2 separate regions of the Homo sapiens genome follow, and region 1 is reported to be linked to region 2. Evidence: microRNA targets listed by miRTarBase, many of them from high-throughput screens and not tested one by one. Region 2 holds a microRNA gene; the other region holds the end of a gene's coding sequence. Distances are between the middles of the regions.
The links. The annotated mature microRNA hsa-miR-4666a-3p reads CAUACAAUCUGACAUGUAUUU and lies in region 2 at 2,070-2,090, shown strand. An mRNA with a match to its seed (bases 2 to 7 or 8) in the 3' UTR can be bound and repressed. Matches are read on the target gene's strand: a 7mer-m8 pairs with bases 2 to 8, a 7mer-A1 pairs with bases 2 to 7 and ends in A, and an 8mer does both.

Region 1 (4,402 bases), 3.9 Mb from region 2:
TTTCTACTTAGAAAGTTTTGTGCATTTGTCAAAAGGGTATTACCTTTAACCTCCCTGTAGTCTCCCTTTTTTGGATAGAGGGTAATATAAACTATGATGAACACCCTTCCTATATAAAGGCTATCTTAGCACCCCATGGGAGCAGAGTGGGATGAAAGAACAGGGTGTGTGGAGTGTTCATTCCCATCCCTTTGTCATCAGCAGGAATCAGGATCAGAAAAGTCCCCTCACTAAAGAAAGTCACCCCTTCTCCCCTCAAAAAGTACATAAGTAAAAATAAGAATCAAAGATTCTCGTAGCCCAGCTTAGGAGGAATGAATGTATCGATCAGTCTCCATGACTCAGTTTATTTCTGCTCTGACCAGGAAAAACAAGACAAGGCCGTTCTCCAAGCAGAAGTGCAGCACCTGAGACAGGACAACATGAGACTGCAGGAGGAGTCCCAGACCGCGACAGCTCAGCTGCGGAAATTCACAGAATGGTTTTTCACCACCATCGACAAAAAATCTTAGCCAATCCGCACCTCATCAAGGGACCACTGGGAAATGCCCCTTGTCCCTTTGAAGTCACAAACATGTGGTTTTTCTGTGTGCTTTCAACCAATCGTAGATGTTTTTGCTGTTCCATTCTGTGTAGCACCATTCACCACAGCAGGATAGGGAGCCTCGACTCTTTCTCGGTAACCACGGCAGAGAGCAGCGCCGATGTGAAGATGAATGAATGTAACTCCTGGTGTGAAGATGAATGTAAACCCTGGCGACAGTTGAGACCTTTTTCTTTTAGACTCTGCTAAAACAGTGCTCTGGCTTGGGCTTACCTCAAGAGGGAAGATAGTTGAGTTTTATTTCCTGTATATCAGGTGACCTGGTAGAGATGTAAAGCAATTTACCATAGTTTGGGCTTTAGTATTGTAAAATAAACATGAGAACAAATAATCAGACATATACTTTAATGTTAAAGGTGCTCTATTTTTTTGGATGTACAGTAGTTTTATTTCCACAGCCACATTACCATAGCAATAAGAAAGGAGGCATAGTACATAGTTGGAAAAGCTTTGTGGGGGGATTAAAAAAAAAAAAAAGCACTGTTGTGTTTAACACTAGTTCAGATGCAGTTACCTTAGAGACTTATTTATTTGCAGGAACAAATGGTGCCTGAATATTAACAGTGTTCTGATTAAAAACAAAAAAAAGATACATATGCCTTGTAAATGGCTCACCGAGTGGTCAGTAGTCACTTCAACTCTTAGTTCACTTTTGTATAGTTGCTCTGCTGGAAAGAAATGAGAGTGAATCTGCTTACTCACTAGAACTTCCCTGTGTGCTGTGAGCCAGCGGAACCACTTGTACAATGCCAGATTTGTTTATCTTTGTACAGAAGCTTTGATGAAGTGTCTTGTATTTAACACCCTTATTTAAGCTTATTTAACCTTAAATTGTTAATTTTATAAAATTTGGTTTGGCCTGCACTACGATGAGGGATGGAGGTAGCTGCAGGCTCAGAAGAGACTGAGCTTGCACAGATCAGACCGAGAAGCAGGGTGAGAGATTCTAACGACTGGATGCTGCTAGTAACACATTGTTTGTATTGCTTTACCATTTTTAACTGTTAGATTTGAGATGAACATACATTTTGCTTTTTTAATAAATGTTTAAAAGAAGTCCACATAAGAAATGGTGTTGTCAGGTGACTAGATTTTTTGTGATCTAACATGTCAACAGTCTGACTGTATGTGAATTTATTTCAGGTCATTTAGAACCTTGATTTGTATTAAATACTGTTCAGCTCCTTTCTCATAGAATCCCAGATCGATTTCAGGAAGGAGTACCTAGCAGTTTTTAATAGCTGCTGTGTGGCGGACACTATTCTCTGAACTTTTCATCCATCTCATTTAACCCCAATGGTATCTATCCTTCATAGGTAGGAGGTGGGGTTCCCATTTACAACCACATGAACTGTGGGTCAAGTGAAGTAATTTACGCAAGACTGCCTTTAAAAAAATAAAATAAAATAACACTTTGGTGTTGCCAGCACTTTGAGAGGCCAAGGCGGGTGGATCACCTGAGGTTAGGAGTTCAAGACCAGCCTGACCAACATGGAGAAACCCTGTCTCTACTAAAAGTACAAAATTAGCCGGGCATGGTGGCACATGCCTGTAATCCCAGCTACTCGGGAGGCTGAGGCAGGAGAATCCCTTGAACCCGAGAAGCAGAGGTTGCGATGAGCCAAGATAGCGCCATTGCACTCCAGCCTGGGCAGCAAGAGCGAAACTCCATCTCAAAAAACAAACAAAAACAGTAAGAGTTTGAAAAATTATCAGGAAGAGGTAAACTGTAAATTTGAATCCAATGTAAGAAGACACAAAACATAGATCCAGGTGTGAAGGGAAACACTGTAAGGTCCATTCCTCTCAACCTTTGAAGAACAGAAAGCATATCAAGAATTCAGAGGAAGCAAACTGACTCTTAGAATTGGCCCCAAAAGGAATTTTCCATATGGGCTTCACATGAGAGGCATATTGAACAATTAACATTCTCACAGTGGATGTAGCAGTAGGCTTCCTAAAGCTGTTTCATGCAGCTGCCCTCTATGAAATGCACAGGTGCACATCCAAAATTTGCAGCCAGGGACTGGAGATTTTCAGGGAATAAGGACCTTATGGGCCACATAGATACTGTCCTTCCTCCCTCCTTCCCTTTTTTTTCTTTCCCATCAGTGTGAACCAGGCAGCATGCTAGGAGCTGAAAATCCAACAGTGATCAACCGGTCAGGGCCCCTGTGTGCACAGGCATACAATCTAATATGGGGAGACAGACATAAGATCACTTCAAAACATGAAAGACAGAAATAAAAGTACCTGCAACAGGCTACCTTAAGTAATTATTATAAACACTGATACTGTTTGAATAGCTCCTGGGTGCCAGGTCCTGTTGAGCTTTGTGTTACCTACCTAGCAGCCATGTGAGGTAGGTGCCATCATCACTCCCCTTTTTAAAGATGAGGAATCAGGACCTAGATAGGGTGGTCCATGGGTAGACGAGGGCACATGAGGTTCAAAGTCCCTAAGGTTAGTGTATTCAAGAAGTCTAGCAGAAGCCAGGACGTAACGGAGGGTAGAGTGGAGGGAGATGTGCTTGAAGAGATCAGCAAAAGCCACACCATGAAGGAACTGGAGGCCATGCTAGACTTTGGATTTTGTTCCAAGTCAAAAAGAAGCCATTGAAGCAGGAAAGATGCCTGATGAGAGCTCTATTTTAAATGGATTATTCTGACTTCTAAAGCAGAATGGACCATGTAGGTCTTCAAACTTTCTGTGTGGGGCTTTTTCTGCAAACGAACGATTTGAGGCCTTGGGAGTCACTGACTGCCTCTGTTGCATATTTTCAAATTTCTATTTAATACCCTTTAAAGATGGTAAGAGTCATTCTTAGCTTGCAAGACCACACAAAAACAGGCCACTCACGAGTATAATTTACCAATGCCAGGCATAAGGCAAAGTACACGAGGAAGACCAGTCTAGGTAAGAGATGGTGTTGGCACGGCCTGTGGTAAGGCAGTGAAAGTGGAGAGAAGTAGGTAGGCTACACGTGAGAATGTATTTGGAGATAGAGCCCACAGAACTGGGTTGGAGACGAGTTGGAAGGGTTGGATCCAGGGATACGCCCTAGACTTCAAAGGAATCCATGAACTGCATGTTCATCAGACGGTTTTCCAGAAATATCTCTTGCCTTTAGTAAAGGCTTAACAACAAACAGTTATGCTCCTGGCAAGGGCCTGGAATACAGCTCTCCTGCGTATTTGATCAAGGGTGTATGCATTTGCTTTAGAGCAACTAATCAGGTGGAAAGGTGGACATCATTTAGAGAAAATAAAGGAATCTGACCAAAACCTAGCTGAATGGAAAGCCATTCCATCTTCCGAAGGCATGACGACAAAACCAGAAGACATTTCTTGAAAACACAGTTCTCAGTCTATACTAGCAAAGGAATGAATAGTCTCTCTCAAGTCCATCTCCAAAGGGCCATGTCAAAAAACAGGGCCAAAATGATTTGGGTCTGTTAAGCTCTTTCAAACATGTTTCCAGTCAACAACCAACCAACTACGTGCTCCCATAGTACATGTAGTTTTGAACAACTTGGTGTCCTGGTGAACACTGTTACAAAATGTACCCCTTAAAAACTAAACATATTGACTTGCTATGACTTACTGGATACAAACCAAATATTTTGTGGAATATATCTGCTAAAAAAATTATTTTAGAATAAGCAGGTTTTTCTAACCATATGGAGTGAACTATTATGTATTAAGGCCATTTTAGTATGTGACAAAGTTATTTAGGCTTTTATCCTGCTATTCTCTATAGCTAGGAGAAGGCTTATGATTAGAAACCTAAGTTACAGTT
Region 2 (4,402 bases):
GATCTCTGCTCACTGCAACATCGGCCTCCCGGGTTCAAGCGATTCTCCTGCCTCAGCCTCCCGAGTAGCTGGGACTACAGGCGTGCGCCACCCACGCCCAGCTAATTTTTTTAATTTTTAGTAGAGACGGGGTTTCACCATGTTGGCCAGGATGGTCTCGATCTCTTGACCTCGTGATCCACCCTCCTCGGCCTCCCAAAGTGCTGGGATTACAGGCGTGAGCCACTTCTCCTGGCCGAGAAATAATTTTTAAATAAAATTCAATGAAAAATATTTTTCCCCCAAGTCATTTCTCCAAAGGGAACCCGTCGCGTGCCTGGGATGGGGAAAGAAAGGTCACCGTGAACATCCTCGACCAAAACGGCTTTGTCCCCTATTCCCCACCTTTTTTTTCCTGCGTGATTCCTCTACAAGAATCTTTGAGAACCTCGCATGTTTTAAAGCTATCTAAAATATTTTTATTTTCAATTAAAATAGTTGCAAAGATACAAATACCAACGTGGAACTTTTTAAAAATCAAAATTCTCACATCAGTCTCAAGGTGCCTTTTGGAATATCAATATGATAGTATAATCAATTCATAAAATACATGACCAAATTTTTCTTTGTCAATGCGATGTTTCAGATGATTTTTTTCCTCCTGAATGCCTATTTCCATTCTCCATTTGCCTTACAATTTCACCCTACCATAATATATCTATTGTATGTTTAATAGTGTTTTGTCTATTGTTCTCTGCAAAAAAGTCTACATTGAAATTTAAGCATACCTCTGGGTAGTCTCTCACTGTTAAGAAAAATCATCTCGACAGTACACAATTGTTCAAAACATAAATAATTTGATGTTATCAAACAGATAAACTTTTAGTGAAACTGACTCTTAATGAGCTGGATGGTGCACCCACTCTCTTCTCTCCTCTCCTTTCCACCTCAATGACTGCACACATGCAGTGTTCATATTGTTACAGTGTTAGCACAGCATGGGATCATTTCCATATGGTTACAATGCTAGCAGTGCACGGGGTCATTTCCATTCTGTTTTGTTTTGATATATGCTCCAAAAAAAATTTACAAAAAATACACAGGAATGACAATTTTGTCATAGGCACTTTATTCAATTCTTTGCATCCCTAGTTATAATCCAAATATTAAACAGTGATCCATCATCAAAAGTAAGTGGGACTTGTCAACACCCTTAGTACTGTCAAGAAATATAGGATTTGTATGAAAAGCTGTTGAATCCAGTCCTCTCCACTATGAAACAGGTGCCCAATGACTGGAACATCCAAGCCCTCGGCCTCCTACCAGCATGGATTGGAAGTCAATACCTTAAACATTTGCAGCTGTGAAACTACTCTCACAGACCCATATAGTTCTCCACCTTAATGAACTTAAAACATAGGTTTAATAAAGTGAAACCAGTCTCCAGTAGAGAGAGTGAATGATTGTGTTAGCACAAGGCAACAACACTGGTTAGTGCCAGAGATCAAATCAAGGCACAAGATGAACATTTCATGACATTTTCCAAGTGTAATTCTCTAAGAAGGCATTTTGTGATGGATAATGTCAAACGTCAGTCAATTCATGTCTCAGTCCTTCTGATTCCCCTGGCACAAACTTGAAGTAGAAACAGGCTGTCTTTTCCTGCTACATTAGCACCCCCAGGCCCAGAATGAATGGGATTTGTCCGTCTCTCCTAGGACAGGGATCTGTTAAGGGAGAGGCAAAGAAGGTAAAACAGGATCCTTGCTACTAAGATTTTATAATGGAGAAAATTCAGAGCAATCGTGTCCAGAACCCATTTCTCTAATTATAGTGTTACAACAGAGAAAGACAAATGTTAATGATAAATGAAGGCAGTGCACATCAAATATGTGAGAATCCACAGAGACTAAGGGAATTAGGACTCACTCAACAAAATGGAAGCATTTTCTGGGTTGGAGAGACATGCCAAGATTCTTAAACTAAGCCAAATTTTTAAACTAAGCTTCATCTCACCTATCTGAGATGGGTGAGTGACAATCACTTAAATACATGTCAGATTGTATGCCTACAAAATCCCTCCAGACTGGCATACAATCTGACATGTATTTAAGAGATTGCCCCTCACCCATCTCAGATGGAAATTTCAAGTCAGATTTGCTAATTATTATGCAGTAAATAAAATAATTTGGAAGGAATCATCTCCAATTAAACCAACTTTGATTAAAAAACAAAAAATAACAAATGTTGGTGAGAACGCAGGGAAAGGGGATGCTTGTACACTGCTGGTAAGAATGTAAATCAGTACAGCCACTATAGAGACAAATATGGGCATTCTTTAAAAAACTAAAAACAGACTTACCATATGATCCAGCAACCCCATTGCTGGGTATATATCCAAAAGAAAGGAAATCAGTATATCAAAGAGATGTCTGCGGTCTCATGTTCATTGCAGCACTATTTATAATAGCCAAGATAGAAAGTCAACCTTAGTGCCCATCAGTAGATATATGGATAAAGAATATGTGGTACATTTACACATTCGAATACTATTTGGCCATTAAAAAAAATGAAATCCCGTCATCAGCAACATGGATGGAACTGGAGGACATTATGTTAAGTAAAACAAATCAGGCACAGAAAGACAAATACTGCATGATCTCACTCATACGTGGGAGCTAAGAACATGCATCTCATGGAGGTAGAAAGTTGATTGCTGGTTACCAGAAGCTGGGAAGAGTGGTGGGGAAAGGAGGAGATGAAGTTGATTAATGGGTACAAAAATATGCTTAGAAGAAATGGTAACATCTAGTATTGGTTAGAAAAGTAGGGTGACTGTAGTTAACAATAATTAGTTGTATTGCTGGAGGAGAGGAATTGGAATGATCTCGACCTAAAGAGGGTGTGAATATGATGACGGATGTCCCAGTTGCCCTGGTTTGATTGTTAAGCCTATGCGTATATCAAAATATTTGTACCCCCCAAATATGTACAACTATTACGTACTACTAATAAAAAAGCATATTGCTCTGAAAAAGTGCTCTAAAAAATAAAGCCTATTTACAAAAAGAATTTGGAGGAAAGAAAACTCCCTTTAAGAAGAAACTAACCCAAGAAAATGGATTTACTTTATGAGGCCAGAGAGGTTAAATGTTGATAAATGCGTGGCTGTCATTGTGTTGGGAGTGTGCAGTGGGAACTGAGCCTGGGTAGAGTGCATCTTCTACCAGTGGGAACTGAGCCTGGAAACCGAATTCTAATTCCAGGCAACGTTTTTGCTTAGAGGGTGGGTAGCTCTCAGGTATTCGTGGTTGGGGTGTCACCGGTATGGGGTATTTTTAGGGGGAGGACAGCCTGGGCCCCAGTCAGGCCTGCATGCCTTAGTTTTTAATGTGTCATCCAGAGATCATACTTATTTTTCCTATGATTTGCTGGAGTTTTTTTTAAAAAGCACTATATTTGCATTATTCAAAATAATCTTTCACTGTGTAATATGCGTACACACACACACACACACATTTTGGGGGTAAAATACGAGAATCCCTTAATTGGGGAAATTTTAGCTGAGTGATAAGGAGATCTGTGAGCCTGCTGTTTTGATGTTTCAAGCAGGAAGGCGTGGCATAAAGAGCTGCTTAGGCGCAACGCTGCTGAAATGGTTTTGGCTAGAAGCTCACAGTGTCTAGTTGTGGCTAAGGAGGGAGGAAAGGGGCGGGAGAAGAACGGACCCAAGCGCCTCCGCCCAGACGGCGCGATAACCCCCTCACCTCCAACCCCGGACCTCAGTGAGCACGTCCTCCAGTCTCAGCCGCCAGGAGGCACTGGGGGCGGGGACGTGGCACAAGATCTTCCCGGAGGTGACCCACGCTCCTCGCGCGCAGGGCGTAAGCCACACACAGATCTTTGGATGGGATCCATGGCGCAATCGCCTGTACTGCCCCCTCTCTGACTTTGCCTGTGGCCAACACAAGACGAACGCAGCCTTTCTAAGGGAAATATGCCGTTACAAACAAGAAGCCTAATTTTGTCTCTAAGACTTGCGCCCCCACGGCTCAGTCTACTTTCCCTCATTACTCCAATTGAATCACAGGTCACAACCAGACCAGGTGGCACGCTCCTTTTGGAGCTTGGAGGTGGCTCTGAAAAGAGCCTTTGGGTTCGGGGCGCCGGGACGCACCTCACTTGGAGCTGGTGTACTTGGTGACAGCCTTAGTGCCCTCGGACACGGCGTGCTTGGCCAGCTCGCCGGGCAGCAGCAGGCGCACGGCCGTCTGCACTTCGCGGGACGTGATGGTGGAGCGCTTGTTTGTAGTGCGCCAGGCGGGAGGCCTCGCTGGCGATGCGCTCGAAGATGTCATTGACGAAGGAGTTCATGATGCCCATGGCCTTGGACGAGATGCCGGTGTCGGGGTGCACCTGCTTC

Region 1: miRTarBase lists SIPA1L2 as a target of hsa-miR-4666a-3p. Seed matches in the 3' UTR shown: 7mer-A1 at 1,257-1,263.

What each region holds. Positions count from the first base shown.
Region 1 is chr1:232,395,237-232,399,638 of GRCh38, reverse strand. It overlaps SIPA1L2 (signal induced proliferation associated 1 like 2), which reads left to right. Exons shown (of 23, transcript NM_020808.5): 23 at 366-1,674. The coding sequence ends at 512. Among named protein-coding and RNA genes, the nearest start is that of SIPA1L2, 230 kb to the left of the region's middle.
Region 2 is chr1:228,460,056-228,464,457 of GRCh38, forward strand. MIR4666A (microRNA 4666a) reads left to right here and starts at 2,019; the gene lies at 2,019-2,097. It also overlaps the pseudogene H2BC27P.